Linked DNA regions of Homo sapiens. The protein of the gene in region 1 purifies or fractionates together with the protein of each later gene. This does not show direct contact. Each region holds a gene or a part of one and is shown on either strand. Other genes may lie near its edges.

What was found. Proteins that work in one complex are often made in the same cells at the same time.
Region 2: the proteins of DNAJC12 (region 1) and MYH1 purify together in Homo sapiens (affinity purification with mass spectrometry; one large-scale study listed by BioGRID and IntAct). This does not show direct contact.
Region 3: the proteins of DNAJC12 (region 1) and MYH8 purify together in Homo sapiens (affinity purification with mass spectrometry; one large-scale study listed by BioGRID and IntAct). This does not show direct contact.
Region 4: the proteins of DNAJC12 (region 1) and CDK19 purify together in Homo sapiens (affinity purification with mass spectrometry; one large-scale study listed by BioGRID and IntAct). This does not show direct contact.

The regions. Positions count from the first base shown.
Region 1 is NC_000010.11:67,796,169-67,800,188, forward strand, and holds the end of DNAJC12 (dnaJ homolog subfamily C member 12), read right to left. Parts: intron 1,043-4,020; coding exon 948-1,042; 3' UTR 501-947; downstream 1-500. UniProt on the Homo sapiens protein: Probable co-chaperone that participates in the proper folding of biopterin-dependent aromatic amino acid hydroxylases, which include phenylalanine-4-hydroxylase (PAH), tyrosine 3-monooxygenase (TH) and peripheral and neuronal tryptophan hydroxylases (TPH1 and TPH2).
Region 2 is NC_000017.11:10,491,807-10,495,723, forward strand, and holds the end of MYH1 (myosin-1), read right to left. Parts: intron 3,512-3,917; coding exon 3,386-3,511; intron 3,296-3,385; coding exon 3,125-3,295; intron 2,868-3,124; coding exon 2,763-2,867; intron 2,644-2,762; coding exon 2,548-2,643; intron 763-2,547; coding exon 610-762; 3' UTR 501-609; downstream 1-500. UniProt on the Homo sapiens protein: Required for normal hearing. It plays a role in cochlear amplification of auditory stimuli, likely through the positive regulation of prestin (SLC26A5) activity and outer hair cell (OHC) electromotility.
Region 3 is NC_000017.11:10,401,451-10,406,131, forward strand, and holds part of MYH8 (myosin-8), read right to left. Parts: coding exon 4,591-4,681; intron 3,136-4,590; coding exon 2,880-3,135; intron 336-2,879; coding exon 93-335; intron 2-92; coding exon 1-1. UniProt on the Homo sapiens protein: Muscle contraction.
Region 4 is NC_000006.12:110,808,970-110,813,650, forward strand, and holds part of CDK19 (cyclin-dependent kinase 19), read right to left. Parts: intron 1-4,681.

The DNA.
Region 1 (4,020 bases):
TGAGGCAGGAGAATCACTTGAACCCAAGGGACAGAGGTTGCAGTGAGCTGAGATCATGCTACTGCATTCCAGCCTGGGTGACAGAGTGAGACTCCATCTAAAAAATATATATATACATATATTTTTTTCCTCAAATAAATCATAACTTTTAAAATTAGGTTAGAAATATCTATTCAAATTATTTTTAAAATACCATCAAGGCTGGGCATGGTGTCTCATGCCTGTATTCTGAGCACTTTGGGAGGCCAAGATGGGAGGATCACTTGAGGCCAGGAGTACAAGACTAGCTTGGGCAACATAGCAAGACCTCACCTCTATAGAAAATAAAAAATTGGCCAGACATGGTGGCGTGTGCCTCTAGTCCCAGCTACTAGGGAGGCTGAGGTAAGAGGATAATTTGAGCACAGGAGTTTGAGGTTGTATTGAGCTATGATTATGCCACTGCATAGCCTGGGTGACAGAGCAAGACCCTAAAAAAAATTGAATTATAAATTCATTTATGAACTTTGGGAAAATTATTTATTTCTCCCCACGGGGTTCAGACAAGTAATTTCACATTTCATTGTAAGTCAAGGGTAAGAAAACATTTTTTGTACATCCATCACTAATAGAGATCACAGTATGTCAATGAAATATTTAAATACACTGTACAGAGATTGCTTTTTAATGGATTTCTATAAGTAGTATTAATAGGAAAAAGCATATAATACAATCTACTCTGTATCTAAGAGCTTTAATTTATTCAAATATTGGAAGAAATTCATCTTCTGAATTTTTCTTATTTAAAAAGCATTATGAGAACTGATTCAAGGATGGAGGAATCAATTAGTACTCAGCAATTCACAGACATGACATAAACATGACATTTTTAAGACATAAACAAAGACTGCATGTTGGCAGCATAGGGGACAGTCTTGCTCTTCCTCATTTTTTGAAGCAGAGATATTTCATATTTCATAGTTTCTGAACTTCCTCAGGAGTTCTGAGGGAGCATCCTTGGACCAGCGGAAACGAAGGTGCCAACCATTCACATCTGCAAAACCTTTAAAGGAAAGAAAGTAAATATTTAAAATCAGAAGTAGGAAAAGTCGATCTTGTTATAGTAAAACAGCTTGGGGATAATATTTCACTGCAGCAGGTACAATGTAAGGGTAAGACTTTGGTATGAATTATTAACATCTTAGAGAAATGGATTAACTTAAACAGACTGGAATTCTTATGAACACGAATTACAATTTATATGGATGATAAGACCTCACATGCTTAAATACTTAATAAGAGGAAATACATAGATGCCTCTGGTGGTGGGGAATTTGACAATTCACATGCAAAGAAATTTGAAACAAATTACACAGTTTTCAAAAACCTTTCAAAAGTTAAAAGTCAATGGCAAAAGGATCGCTTGAAATACAAGTACTATAATTGAATTCCATGGTAATAAGATTTTTTTTTAGTTATAATAAACAACATTGTTGAAAACCAGAGGAAAAGAAGGTAATTTTCCTTCCCTACTAGAAGTATGAATTAGCAAAACCCCTCTGGCAGGCAATTTGGCAATATTTATCAAACTCGTTAAAATGTATAAACCTTTGCCAGGCGCAGTGGCTCACGCCTGTAATCCCAGCACTTTGGGAGGCCAAGGCGGGCGGATCACGAGGTCAGGAGATCAAGACCATCCTGGCTAACACGGTGAAACCCCGTCTCTACTAAAAATACAAAAAATTAGCCGGGCGTGGTGGCGGGCGCCTGTACTCCCAGCTACTCGGGAGGCTGAGGCAGGAGAATGGCGTGAACCCGGCATGCGGAGGTTGCAGTGAGCCGAGATAGCGCCACTGCACTCAGGCCTGGGCGACAGAGCGAGATTCTGTCTCAGAAAAAAAAAAAAAAAAAGTATAAACCTTTGACCCAATAATTTTACTCCTTGAAATGTATCCTAAGGAAATAATAATGGATGCACCCAACGATTTAACTCTAAGGATGTTTATAATGATACCATTTATAAATTTTTTTTGCAAACCAAGAAACATTCTAAACTTTAGCAAATGAAAGCTGGTTAAAAGGTTTTGATATCGTCATTAACAATATCTTAATATTTACCATTATAGAAAAATGCTCACAGCATATTGCTAAGTGACAGTTAACAAAACTGTTTATATAGTATGATCTCATTCCTAAACTCATTATTTACATGAATATTTATGTGAAATTTTTTTAAGTCTAAAAAAAGAAGGCCCAGCATGGTGGCTCACGCTTGTAATCCTAGCACTTTGGGAGGCCGAGGCAGGTGCCTCTCTTGAGCTCAGGAGTTCGAGACCAGCATAGGCAACATGGCAAAATCCCGTCTCTACAAAAAAATACAAAAAATTAGGCGGGCGTGGTGGTATGTGCCCGTGGTCCCAGCTACTCAGGAGACTAAGACAAGAGGATTACTTGAGCCCCAGAGGGGGAGGTTGCAGTGAGCCGAGAGGGTGCCACTGCACTCAAGCCTGGGTAATAGAGTGACACTCTCTCAAAAAACAAACAGATAAGAAAAGGTACACCAAAATTAATAGTATTTATCCCTGGATTGTTACAATAGATGTGATTTTCCTTTTTTTTTTTTTTTTCCTTTTCTGAAACGGAGTTTCGCTCTTGTTGCCCAGGCTGGAGTGCAATGGCGCGATCTCAGCTCACCACAACCTCCGCCTCCCGGGTTCAAGCGATTCTCCTGCCTCAGCCTCCCGAGTGCTGGGATTACAGGCATGAGCCACCACACCCGGCTAATTTTTGTATTTTTAGTAGAATCGGGGTTTCTCAATGTTGGTCAGGCTGGTCTCAAATTCCTGACCTCAGGTGATCTGCCTGCCTCAGCCTCCCAAAGTGCTGGGATTACAGGCGTCAGCCACCGTGCCCGGCCAATTTTCATTTTTAATACTCTTTTTTGTTTATCTGTACTTTCTTATTTTTCTGCAATAAACATCTATGCTTTTCGTCTTTTTATGTTAATAATATTGCTAATGAAAAAGCAGGTTACAGAATAATATATAAAATACACTTCCATTGATATTTTAATATAGTATATAAATATGTAGTCAGAAAAAGCATATACAGAATAGTTAACAATGGTTATCTCAGAAAAACAGATTACACTGACACTTTTTAAAGAATTATTGGAGAAAACAAATCTGAAGAATTTTCATTTGGGGAAAAAGCAAAAAGGAAATTGTTTCTGATTGCTATAATTGTTCCTATAATTAAAACTTACTCACAAAATATGTACAGTATGATCCTTTTAGATATACTAACACAAATGAAAATATACCAAAATATCGATAATACATATTTCTCTAAATGATAAAATTATGAGTTATATGTTCTTCCTTTTGCTTGATTATATTTTCTCACATTTTATATAGTAAGTAAGTGTCATTTTTGTTTAAAAAGATGTAGTTTCTGGCCAGGTGCGGTGGCTCACGCCTGTGATCCCAGCACGTTGGGAGGCCGAGGCGGGCAGATCACAAGGTTGGGAATTCGAGACCAGCCTGACCAACATGGTGAAACCCCGTCTCTACTAAAAATACAAAAATTCGCTGGGCGTGGTAGCACACGCCTGTAATCCCAGCTACTCAGGAGGCTGAGGCAGGAGAATCACTTGAACCCAGGAGGCGGAGGTTGCAGTGAGCCAGGATCACGCCACTGCACTCCAGCCTGGGCGACAGAGCGAGACTGTCAAAAAAAAAAAAATGTAGTTTCTAGTTAGGGTTCCCGTAGAAATAGACATGCAGACAAGAACTTGAAACAGGTTGGGCACAGTGGCCCACACCTATAATCCCAGCACTTTGGGAGGCTGAGGCCAATGGATCACTTGACCTCAGGAGTTTGAGACCAGCCTGGGCAACATGGCGAAACCCCATCTCTATAAAAAATTAGCCGGATGTGGTGGTGCACACCTGCAGTCCCAGCCATTTGGGGGCGGAGGTGGGAGGATCATCTGAGCCTAGGAGGTCGAGGCTGCAGTGAGTCGTGATCACACCACTGCAC
Region 2 (3,917 bases), on another chromosome or scaffold:
TTTACAAAGGGCCAGAAAACCTACAGAACATGCTTCCCTCTCAAGGGATTCTAATCCCAATTAAATGGTTCATATAGTTATAGTGAAGAGTTTGCATTTTAAATATTTTTGACAGTACTTTAATCTAATTTTTAAATTTTTCTCATTTTATGTAAATAACATGTTTTAATTTATTTTTACTCAGCCTTAGGATGAAGGATTTCCTATCATTTTATGAAGAAAATCAATAATTTCATTGACAGAAACTAGCTATGTTTTGTCAAGTAAGGTTTACCAAATATTCTATGTTTTATGGCTTGTGGTATACCTTTAGGTTCACCTACTTCCTATAGGGACGCATATGGTGGCACTTACCGGGTCTGCCTAGCTGCTCTCTATCATGTCTTAATATTGGTGACTAAGCACTTTTCTGTAAAATGTAACCAAAATGTTGAGATGTTTTTCTTTTCTCAGTACTTCTAAAGACAAATTGACATAGAGGGGAAAAAGAGACTCACAAGTTTTTGGCAGATAAATTTTTTATCTCCAAAAGTCATAAGTACAAAATGGAGTGACAAAGATTTTCACATTTTGTGCATTTCTTTGGTCACCTTTCAGCAGTTAGATAAATTACTCTTCACTTATGATTTTTGTGTGAACCTCCCTGCTCTTCACCCTCAGCTTGTTGACCTGGGACTCAGCAATGTCAGCCCGTTCCTCGGCCTCCTCCAGCTCGTGCTGGATCCTGCGGAATTTGGAGAGGTTGACGTTGGATTGTTCCTCCTGTGAATGGAAATCCATTTATGAGGGAAGAAAGTTCAGAATTTTTCCATTCTTAGGTCAGTGGATCTTGAATTTCCTTTTTACTTAAAAATGATTCACTCTAGCAGATATTTTAAGAAACCTAGAGAAATGCTCTTGAATTTTTATTTTTTTTTATTTTTGCATTAGCTTCTTGAACTCATAGATAACAAGGAAGGACAGGTGACCTTTGTATCTGAACTTTTAGAACAGCAGAACATCCTAGAGCTACTACTAAATATGCCAGGTGTCCAGCTTTGTTTTTTTTTTTGTTTGTTTGTTTGTTTTTTTCAGAATCCTGAGAATGGAACCAAACCTTTTAAGAGTGCAAGTATGCAATCTATACCAAACCAAACCATTAAGCTTGAATATAAGTTATTGCCATGTGAGTATAAATTATTGCCACTTAAGTTTAGAAATTAAGCAAGAAGTTTGTTTCCTAAAATAGTCTGAGCTGTCTCTGATTATACTTAAATATATAGCAGAGAATTTGAGCAGGTCAGTTCTAGTTTAGTCTCTGGTAATCATTCTTATTTAAAAGTCTCAGTAAGAACCTCCAAAATGTGGCATTCAAATTTAGAACAGACATAAAGCTTAGAATCATTAAATAGTATAGCTTGAGAAAAAACCTCAGCTTTTCCTCTTACAGATGAGGAAAGTAGGAACTGGAGAAAGATTAAGCAATTTGTCCGAGGTATGGACAGTAGCGTGTGTGTGTGTCCGTGCACACAAGTGTGTTTGTTTTCTCTCCCTCCCTCATTCCCCTCCATTCCCATCTTTCTCTCTCTCTTACCTTAGATGTCAGGGGTAAAATAAAAACCATCAATGAACAGAGGAACTCATTTGTGATATGTAACTATGAATATTTATATGTAGGAAGTTGAAACTATTTGATTATTAATCCAGATGAATCATGGGATACGGAAATGAGATAAAGTGGAGTGTTAAGAATCTACTGATTTGAACATAACCAAGACCTTCTGAGTTTCAGAATCTTATATTTAACTATTTACTTGACATGTTCACTTGTGTATATATGGTATTATGTATCTAAAACAGAATTCCTGTTTCTTTCTTGCCCTGCAATTCTGTTCTTCCCTTTGTTCCCCACTTAAGTGTTACATCATCCACTTGGTTACTCAAACCATAAACTTGATAAATTACTCTTAATTGCCTTTCTTTCATCTCCCAAGTGCAACCTATTAGCAATCTTGTAGTTTCTACCTCCAAAATATGTCCTGAATTTCTCCACTTCTCTCTGCTCCACTCTCTTATCCAAGCCACAGAACCGACCTGAAAAGCTTCCTAACATGTCTCTCTGCACCCACTTGTGTTACCCAGTAACCGATTCTTTACATAGTATCCCAAATGCTCTTTTTAAAAAATATAGATCAGGTAGTGACTGACCCACATTAAAACCCTCCCTGGCTTCCCAGTACCTTATTGTTCTTACCATGGCCTGGAAGACCCTATGAGCTGCCTCCTGCCTGGCTCTCCAGTCCCAGTTGTGGTGCTTTCCTCCTTTTTTTGTCTGCTTCTTGAGCCAGACTCTTTCCCACTCAAAAGCTTTGCATTTGCTCTTCCCCATCTCTAGAACATCTTCTGCTGGCTTGTCAGGTGGTTGGTTTTACCTCAGCCTTGGACCTCCATGTAGCCATTTGTTTTCTTTTGATCCTTCCTCATTTTACTCATCTTTTCTTTTGTCACTTTAACTAAACTGGCCTGGTCATGTCTGAGAAAAATCACCCCAAGGGGTTGTGAACTCACCGCTTCTTCAGCTTGTCTCTTGTAGGATTTCACCTTTGCTTGCAGTTTGTCCACCAGGTCCTGGAGCCTGAGAATATTCTTGCGGTCTTCCTCAGTCTGAAATAATGTTTTCAAGAGTAAGTTTCTTGAAAGTACAAATATTACATTTTGTCATACATATGACTTTTAATCCCATGTGGACTAAAGTGAAAACCTAGACAGGCCATTTTCCTTACTTGGTAAGTGAGTTCCTTCACTTTTCTCTCATGTTTGCGTAGACCCTTGACAGCTTCAACATTGCGCTTCTGTTCACTTTCAACTTCACCTTCAAGTTCACGAACCTACAAGAAGATGGACATTTTAAGGACATTCATTTGACGAATTTCTACTTCTTCACATGACCCACATACTTCTTCTACTCTGCTTTATATGTAGTTTTTAATGCCCTAGTTCAGTTTTCCTTATTATGAGCTTTTGGGCATGAGGGAATAGCTCTCCCTCATCTCAGTATGCCCCACATCATCTAGCAGTGCTAGGTATTCAGAATCGTGTGTTGGATTGGAATGAGATAGAAATACATGCTGATTAGGAGACCCACCCTGGCCTCCAGTTTCTGGATCTGCTTCTTCCCACCCTTCAGGGCCAGCTGCTCAGCCTCATCCAGACGATGCTGCAGGTCCTTCACCGTCTGTTCCAGGTTCTTCTTCATCCGCTCCAGATGGGCGCTGGTGTCCTGTTCCTTCTTCAGCTCCTCAGCCATCATGGCAGCCTAATTAGCAGTAAAACAGAATGGGTTAAGACAGCTAAGACAGCACATTAAGATTTAAGTTTGACCACCACTGTGTTACCCTTCACTCACATCAGTGATGGCCTTCTTGGCCTTCTCTTCTGCATTGCGGGCTTCCTGGATGATGTCTTCCATCTCTCCCTGGATTTGGGAAATGTCTGTCTCCAGCTTCTTCTTGGTGTTGATCAGGCTGGTGTTCTGTTTAAAATGTGAAATTTAGAAATATTAGGCACATGAGAGAAAAATTAGGAAACCTCATGTTCTAATGAACCATAAACTAATTAACTAAATGAATTCATTAATATTCCTCCTTGTTTCATAAATTATCTGAGTTGACATATGTTTAAAAGACAATCAACTGGCCGGGCGCGGTGGCTCATGCTTGTAATCCCAGCACTTTGGGAGGCCGAGGCGGGTGGATTACGAGATCAGGAGATCAAGACCATCCTGGCTAACACGGTGAAACCCCGTCTCCACTAAAAATACAAAAAATTAGCCGGGCGTGGTGGCGGGCGCCTGTAGTCCCAGGTACTCCGGAGGCTGAGGCAGGAGAATGGCGTGAGCCCGGGAGGTGGAGCTTGCAGCGAGCCGAGGTTGCGCCACT
Region 3 (4,681 bases), on another chromosome or scaffold:
CCTACAAAGGTTAAGAAAGAGATTATTTCTCCTATAAAGCAATTTAGTTGGTGGCAGAACCTCTATACAGTATTGTAAAATATGACTGATACCTTGTTCTCCGTGGCATGTTTCTCCTTCTCAACCTTGGCCAGTGTCAGCTCAAGGTCATCAATGTCTTTCTTGAGTTCTGAACATTCATCCTCCAGTTTTCTCTTCTTGGCTGTCAGCTCAGCATTGATCTCTTCCTCCTCCTCAGCTCTTTCAGTCACCTCTTTGATTTTGGCCTCAAGTTGGATTTTGTTTTTAATCAGTTGCTCACACCTTTCCTCTGCATCAGCCAAGCTATCTGCTTCCTATGGAGAGATTCATTCAGATACTTAGAGTCTGTTACTTATTTTGAAACTTGGTGTTTTTTTTGCGCAAAAATAATAGTGTTTTATTGAATTCTGTTGAATTTTTCAGTATGAATATAAATTTAATTTAATCGAACATTATTACATGGTCTGGAGAAATGCAGCTTATTGGAAGTGAGACTATAGCTTTAGAAGCAAACTAGTTTGCAAAGTTATTGGATTGGAGCTATTGATTATTTAAAAAATAATTTGTAGAAGAGTGGAAAGACCTCTAAATCGGGCAAAAGGAAGCCTGGGTTCTTGTCCCAATATTGTTTGCATATGTATGACTTTGGGCAAATTGCTTTATTCCTTTCATTCTCAATTTTGTGTATATATATATATGGGTTGGAATAAATGATTGCCAAGAGCTTTTCAGCTGTAATATTTAAAGATTTTGATTTAGTTAAATTGGTTAGTTTTGGTTTTGATCATTCCCTGTCCCCCTCAAACCAATAATTGCTAGGCTGTATTGAAGAAAGAAAAAGAAGAAAAATAATTTAAATACATTTCCATGTAGTATTTTTTAATACACTAAAACCTTCCTGGTAGTTCATACAGTGCTATAATTGTTCAAAATTTACATTTCCATTTACAGAATTACCCATTAGTCTTAAGGTGAATTTTATTTTTTGGAACTTTTACCCCAACTTTTATTTTGAAAACTGTTAAACTTACCGAATAGCTGTATGAATAATACAATAAATTGCCATATACCATTTACCTAAATCCTCGTATTTTTAACATTTTACTGTTTTTTCTCTCTCTAAACACACACATAGACACATATATAGGCACATGTGCACGCACACACACACACACACTCTCCTAAATCATTTGAAAGTAAATGGCAGATATCATATTTTAGCATTTCTCTCCTAAGGACATGAACATTCTCCTATATAACTACAATACTGTTATTACAAATGAAAATATTAATCACTGATACAATAATATTATCTAATATACAGTCTATATTCAGATTTCCCCAGTGTAACAAAAATGTTCTTTAAGTTTTGTGGTTTCATTGTTTCATTTTTATACACAACATGGGCAATAGGCCTAAACTGCAACATAATTTTCAGAGAGTTGTACCATTGACTAGGCTAGAGGTTCTCATGCCCAGGACAATTCTAGTTAAGGAAAGATTGATGAACTGTTCTTAGCCCTTTCTGCTTTTGTGTTTTTGTTTGCTTTTGTTTTCCCATTCCCTTCTAAATCTGGTTAATGTGGAAAGTCTATGTTGAGCCCCTGAAATTTTGAAAATGTTCAAACCCATATGTCAAGTTAGGAAAAAAAAATAGAATGAACAGTGATATGTTATGAACCTAGATTTACCAGTTGCTAAGTTATGCCACATTTGCCTTGTCCATTCCATTTGTGGCCCTCTCCCCTCTCCCAATAATTATCAAAATGAATTTTAGAATATATGAGAAAATGTAATTCTCAGAAACTGTATAGCTCAATAAAGTTTTTATAAGTGACTAATGAAAGGATTCAAATAAAAATCAATCCAGTCTAATTTATTAGGTTACCTTGGCCTGGGGAATATTTTTTAACTCCCAGTGTTTGTTTTGTTCTTGAGTTTAAAAAACGTTTAAATGGAATATAATGGGAACTTATTGGGGGATTCTTTTCTTTTTTCTTTTTTTGAGCTTTACTGCTTAATATATTTATTTTTAATAGTGATACACTCAATACATATTTACTCACTGACTAATGATAACTGTGAAAAGATGGTAAGATAGAGAGGCTATGGTCCTGTGCTTTTGGAAAAATGTAACCTTCATATAAATGAAGGTATCAGAAGGAAAAATTGAAAGTTGCTGAAAAAAAGTGGGAAAACTATCCTTTTCACAGGTTAGTTTATGATATTGTTAGGTTTGCTGAACCAAGGAAATGGGAGGTTACCTTTGACCAAAGTGTTCATGCCAAACCTACTCCCCACCCCAACTGCCCCTCCTTCCTGCACCAATAAACAGACTCTAGGAACTAGAGATTTGTATCAGAGGAAGAATCAGGAGGACACATTGCTCTGCCTGACATGCTGGTAGTTCAGTTCCATTAAATACAGATAGATTTATTGAGCTAAATCTTGGGGGTTGGGGAAAGGAGATACAGAAATAAATAAGTTTGAATTTAAATACAATCTCATAGACTTGCATTTAGAAAATAGAGCTATACTTTTAATGCTGGGCTAAAGTAGCCCAGGCAAAGGGGTAAAATATTTGACTGAGACTTGGGGGATTGGCTTTAAGCTACTTCCTTCATGGCTGTTAAATTTTGTGATATTATTTAAACAAATTCTTCAATCTTTCCTTTTCCCATTGTAACTTGGAAATAATTGTGCCTTTTCTTCCCCATAGAATACTAAAAGATAAATGAGGTATTAAAAACAGCAACTTGAGATTTTTTTTCAAGTAGAGATCATTTGTAAATCCAAAGTATATGTGTGTTTCAAAAAAGCTTCAGTAACATGGTGCATTCAGAATATGGAGTACTCACAGATTGAACCTGGAGTTGCAGGTCATTTTTCTCTTTTAAGAGAGTGACCATTTTTTCCTCTAGCTCCTTCCGTTTTGCCTCTGACTTGGCGAGTTCATCTTTGGTTTTCTGGAATTCTTCCTTCATGGTGGCCATCTCTTTCTCGGTCTCTGCACTCTTGAGGAGGGGCTTAATCTTGAAAAAGAGTTTCATCCAGGGCCAGTGCTTGACGTTCATGAAGGCACGGACATTATACTGGATGCAGAAAAGTGCTTCTCTGCGATGACATGAAAATATCAGTGTAGACTAATCCATCAGAGCCAATGTTATTGTTACTTATCACACACAAATTTCCCTTTTAATGAATGCCGCTCACAAATAAATATGTCACATTCTCTATATATTATATGCAGGCTTTACACACACACACACACACACACACATGTACACACATTCTCGCGCTCACACTCATGGTCAGTAGCCCTCAGTATAACCACTTTGCTAATATGAGTACGGTTCATATTGAGCACATCTTCTGTGTTCTCAATCCCTATCAAACTAGCCAAGAGAGTGACTTTAGGGGTGAATATTTTGAATGTATGATCAGCACATACCATTTGACATATGACAGTATTAGTGATTTGAGGGTGGGCATGGTGATTGCATGTTGATTGTGCTGCCTGTCTGTGGGCATATGGATGAGAACTGTGAAATGACATAGGTTGCCTTCTGAATGGCCCACCTAAACTGAGCGAATGATTTGTCATCTCTTCCTTGAAGTTGCTCCTCTTATTTTGAACAACACTGAATTATCCACTCTATAAACTTTTTTTGCTAGCTTCTTCAGATAATACACTGGCTTATCTCAAATTCTTTCAAGTGCCTCAGTCTTAACTGATTAATTGGATTGTTAATATTTGCGAGGCATTCAGCATCTGTTGAGCTCTAAAATTTATTTTATTGAAATAAAGTGAAAAATAGTAATAAAAGGTACCCCTACTGCAAACTATAGCCATAGACTGGCTAGGTTTGACTACTTGTAGCAATGTGTATGTTTCTTCAAGCTTGTTAAAATGGAAATTCTATCTCTATAGGTCCAGTTTTTAAGACTTGTAACTCTATGAAAGCAGATACCTTGACACAAACCATAACGTTCACACATGGGAAAGACTCAGGAACACTTCCAGTGCAGGCCTAAATGATTACAGATAAGAAAAATGAATGCACAGTGTGTGTGTAAGTAGAGGGAATGCAATAGTGTTGGGTAGATAAACTGGGTGAGATTAGTTACAGAAAGGGGAAATTAAAGTTTTAAATTGGTAAATAGATAAATTAGGATGAGGGGAGAGATGAGATAAGAAGATAAGCAAATGAGAGATTAGTAGATAAGCAAATTGTTTAGCCTGGCTGGAAAAGGCTATGTGCTTGGAAATGATAGATGAGGTGGGGAATAGAGAGGGCCTTGACAGGCAAGCAAGCAACTAGCTTGATGAAAATACTGCTTACTGCAAACTATTCCTGTGGCTGTATGTGAGATGGCTGGAGGTAGGAGAGAAGTTTTGAAAGGAATCCAAGTGTGAGAGCTGAAGCAAAGGCTGCTGTGTTGTAGGAGTGAGTTCTGAATTGGGTGAGAGGAACTATTAGCCACCAAATGAAAGAATTAATGAATGAACAAGACTGATTGATAGTCCTTAAGGGACCTTATAATTCTGATATTCTGAATGATTGTTACCTCCTTTGCAACATCTTCTGATATTCTACCCTCATTAGGAATCCCCTACAGACAGCTTGTGTTCTTGTTATAATTTGGGCTAATTTTTCAT
Region 4 (4,681 bases), on another chromosome or scaffold:
GCCGAGGCAAGTGGATCATGAGGTCAGGAGATTTAGACCATCCTGGCTAACACGGGGAAACCCCATCTCTACTAAAAATACAAAAAAAAAAAAAAATTAGCCGGGCATGGTGGTGGGCGCCTGTAGTCCCAGCTACTCGGGAGGCTGAGGCAGGAGAATGGCATGAACCCAGGAGGCGCAGCTTGCAGTGAGCCGAGACTGCGCCACTGCACTCCAGCCTGGGAGACAGCGAGACTCCATCTCAAAAAAAAAAAAAAGAAATGGGCCAGGCACAGTGACTCATGTCTGTAATCCCAGCACTTTGGGAGGCTGAAGCAGAAGGATCACTGGAGCCCAGGAGTTCGAGACCAGCCTGGGCAACACAGTGAACACAGTGAGACCTCGTCTCTACAAAACAACAACAAAAATTAGCCAGCACGTGCATCTGTGGTCCTAGCTACGCAAGAGCCTGAGGCAGGAGGATCACTTGAGCCCAGGAGTTCAAGGCTACAGTCAGCTACGACTGCACGACAGCACTCCAGCCTTGGTGATAGAGTGAGACAGTCTCAAGTGAAAAAAATGAAAAAAGAAATTTATCAACTGTTTGGAAAAGCAGTACATTTCTTAGAAAAAATACATTAGAAGTATTTACATCTAACCACCTATTTCATATAACATTACTGTATTTCAGGCTTTCAAAGCAATTACTAAAAACTTCGTTTTTTAAGAAAAGTAAATAAACTTGCGTTTTTAAAGGAATTTGGTCTGCTTTTAAAATCAGTGGAGCATCTTTACCAATTAAAGGCATTTTTAATTGAATATAATTTTGTGTATTATGTGACCAACTCTGTACAAGGCACTGGACAGAATGATGATCCTTTTGCAGCTAGTAATTTATGAGGCATATTAGTATCACTTACAGTGACTTTACATATGTAAGAACAAAGGGGTAGAAACACAGCTGAGGAGTACACCGAGTGATTAAGAGAAGGCTTCAAGGAGGAAAGCTATTTGAGTTGGGTATTGAAGTATGAGTTTTACAGGTTTGTAAGGATAAGGGAAAAGGGGGAGGGAAGAATGGCACAGCAACACCATTCTAAAGTGAATGTAGAACAAAGAAAATGAGACATGAAAGGACTTAAGTACCAGAAAATACGAGTTCAATGCTACAGAAGTATATAGCTTAAATGCAACTGGAAAAAAGAAATGGTGGCAGGTATAAAGACTACAGACTTCAGGGTCTGAATGTAAATGTCTTTACATGACAAACTAAGGAATTAAAATTGGATCTAAGTCTCAAGTATGAATCATGCAAGGAGAGAAGAGAAAGAGATGAGATTGGATCTGATAGTATAAGCCATAGCAAACGTATAGCTTTCCAAAAAGAGATATGACATGATTGATTTTATAGGAAAATGACACTAGCAGCAATTTGGATCTTGGACTATAGTGAGAGACCAACCAGCTACTATCCAAATCAGAAATAATGGCCAAAAGTGTTGACAGTGAGGATGAAGAAAAAAACAGATGAAAAGCAGCAGCATGGCCAGGTAAGGTGGCTCACGCCTATAATCCCAGCACTTTGGGAGGCCGAGGCAGGTGGATCACCTGAGGTTGGGAGTTCGAGACCAGCCTAACCAACATGGAGAAACCCCATCTCTATTAAAAATACAAAATCAGCCAGGCGTGGTGGTGCATGCCTGTAATCCCAGCTACTCAGGAGGCTGAGGCAGGACAATCGCTGGAACCCAAGAGGCGGAGGTTGCAGTGAGCTGAGATCGCACAATTGCACTCCAGCCTGGGCAACAAGAGCAAACTCCATCTCAAAAAAAAAAAAGAAAAGAAAAAAGAAAAGCAGCAGCTACATGTAGTAGAATCTACAGTCCTGCACTCCCACTTTGTAAATGTCCTGTATATGTGATAATTTCCCTTTTCCATATTTTTTTTTGGTATAAATGCACTTTTGGCATGCAAAAAGGTTTATACAGTAAGTTATCAAGACTGGAGGTAAGATGGCCTTTTTTTGTTTTTCCTCCCATGGTATTAGGAAGGAAAATGCAAGAACTCTTGAGTTAGATGTGGATTACAGGCTATCTCTGCTGTGACACTATGAGCATGACAGTTAACCTCTCAAAGCTCTAGGTTTCTCATTTGTAAAAAGAGGAAATTGAACTAGATGATCTAAAACTTTGGAAAGTTCTAATCCTCTGATGATACTGACAAATCTTTAATCTTCTGTAAGTGTCCAACAAAAATGCAAATACAATAATCTAACTACAAACCGATTGTGAAAAACCCATCAAACACAGGCAAATACTATTGTACCTATTAGCTATATGCATCTACATGTACTCATTGTGAAGAATTTCATGACATACATTAAGTTATGTAGTCATCAACCACTCATTTGAAACCCTGACAAAACAAACTCTGTAAGCTGTGTCAGCCATGCAAGGCACCACGCTCGGCTAATTTTTGTATTTTTAGAAGAGACGGGGTTTCGTCTTGTTGGCCAGGCTGGTCTCCTGGTCTCAGGTGATCCACCTGCCTCGGCTTCCCAAAGTGCTGGGATTAAAGGTGTGAGCCACGGCGCCCGGCCAACAAAAGAACTTTTTAACAATATTCCTTTATCGATCAAATTTTTAAATGTTTCTAACTGGAAAAATGCAGTCTTGAAATTTGTAACCATAAATTGTCATGTGCGACTTCTTAATAATGAAGAAAATTTATTTTATGAATTCTTGCTTGTATTAAAAAGTTCAGAAATATTCTGAACTTGTTTCTCTTCAAGAGTAACATTTGGCTGGGTGTGGTGGCATGAGCCTGTAATGCCAGCACTTTGGGAAGCCAGGAGTTCAAGACCAACCTGAACAACACAGCAAGACCCTGTCTGTAAAACGAAAAAACAAAAAAAGAACAACTTTTAAACCGGATTTTTTTTTTTTTTTAAAGTAAAAGAGAGTTGGAGGTCCAGCATGATGGCTCACACTTGTAATCCCAGCATTTTGGGAGGCTGAGACAGGAAGATCACTTGAGCCCAGGAGTTCAAGACTAGCTCTGGCAACACAGCAAGACCCGGTCTCTACAAAAAATATTCAAAAGTATAAATATTAAATAAAAAGGAGAGTTGGGTCAAAAGCCTCTCTTCCTGCAAAACAAAAAGGTGAACAAATAACTTTTTTTTTTTTTTGAGACAGAGTCTCGCTCTGTCGCCCTGGCTGGAGTGCAGTGGCGGGATCTCGGCTCACTGCAAGCTCCACCTCCCGGGTTCACGCCATTGTCCTGCCTCAGCCTCCCGAGCAGCTGGGACTACAAGTACCCGCCACCATGCCCGGCTAATTCCTTTTGTATTTTTAATAGAGACGGGGTTTCACCATGTTCACCAGGATGGTCTCGATCTCCTGACCTCGTGATCCACCCGCCTCGGCCTCCCAAAGTGCTGGGATTACAGGCGTGAGCCACCGCACCCGACCCAGAGAATATTTTTAATTAAAGGTGAAAAACTCAGATGTAAATCTTGCATTTCCAGCCTCTTATAAATTTGTGATATAATTAATATTGCCTAAAGTCATACTTCAAGGGAAATAACATTTTGCTAACTGTAGTATTAAACTTTTCTAATGATATTTTATTTCTTCTAATGTTTCTTCTAAAGACCTGAACAATGTTTTGGTTATATACTACATTATATATACCAGAATCATTTATCTTTAATGTAACCTATGTGATTTCTGGCTCCCTAAAATAGCATTATGCATTTTCTGAGTTAACCAAAATAAAATCTAGAAAGAGCTAAACTGTAATCTACCATGATCGGAGTGTAAAATCCTTTACTATGCAAATCTGCCCACTGTTTAAAACAGTAAAAAAAAAAAAAAAAAAAAATTTAACATGAACCCAAAGGACACAGATGTTCTTTCAAATTGCTGGTATCAATGAACATAAAATTAATCCCACTACCAACCCACAAGAGACGTGGGTGTTTACTGTAAAGTTGCAAATCTCAACCAGATCTTTCATCCAGGAAAAAAGCCTTTATTACGGTTTTTCTTATACGTAATACAGTGATTTAAACTAATGCTTTCAGATCCTGAGAGGTTTTTTTTTTTTTTAGAAAAAAAGCATTATATTTTGAAGACACACAAACTAATCTTACTCTAGTAAAGAAGCTTTATTAATTCTAATTAACAAATTTCACTCAAAAAGGAAGTGTATTCGAATCAAGTACTTTATTAGAGGGGAAAAATATTCAAAAAGAATAGAAGCAAGAATTATCTGGTTTTTGTTGTAAGCCCATACTATTCAAATACAATTCAGAAGCAGAATTTTTAACTTCTCAAAAGTTCCCTAATAAAAGAAAGCTATTTTAACAAAAAAAACACTAAGATACATTTTTTAAAACCAAAAGTATACCACAAAGTTAGCATGAGGAGTATGGGAAAAACCCACCTCAGATTTATTAACAATGTCCAAACGGAAAACTGGATGTGCTTTCCCCAAATATAACTGATAAAATTCCCACAAGAACACTAGTATAACAGGTGGAGTGGATATTCCAAAACCAAAATATGTTAATTATAGTATCTCACATTCCATGATAAGCATTCAAGGACACCTGGTAATTAAAGGAATTATGAGAAACAACTGAGTACCTTAAGGCCTGTTCAGTTACAAAAGAAAAAAAAAATTCTGCAATAATAAT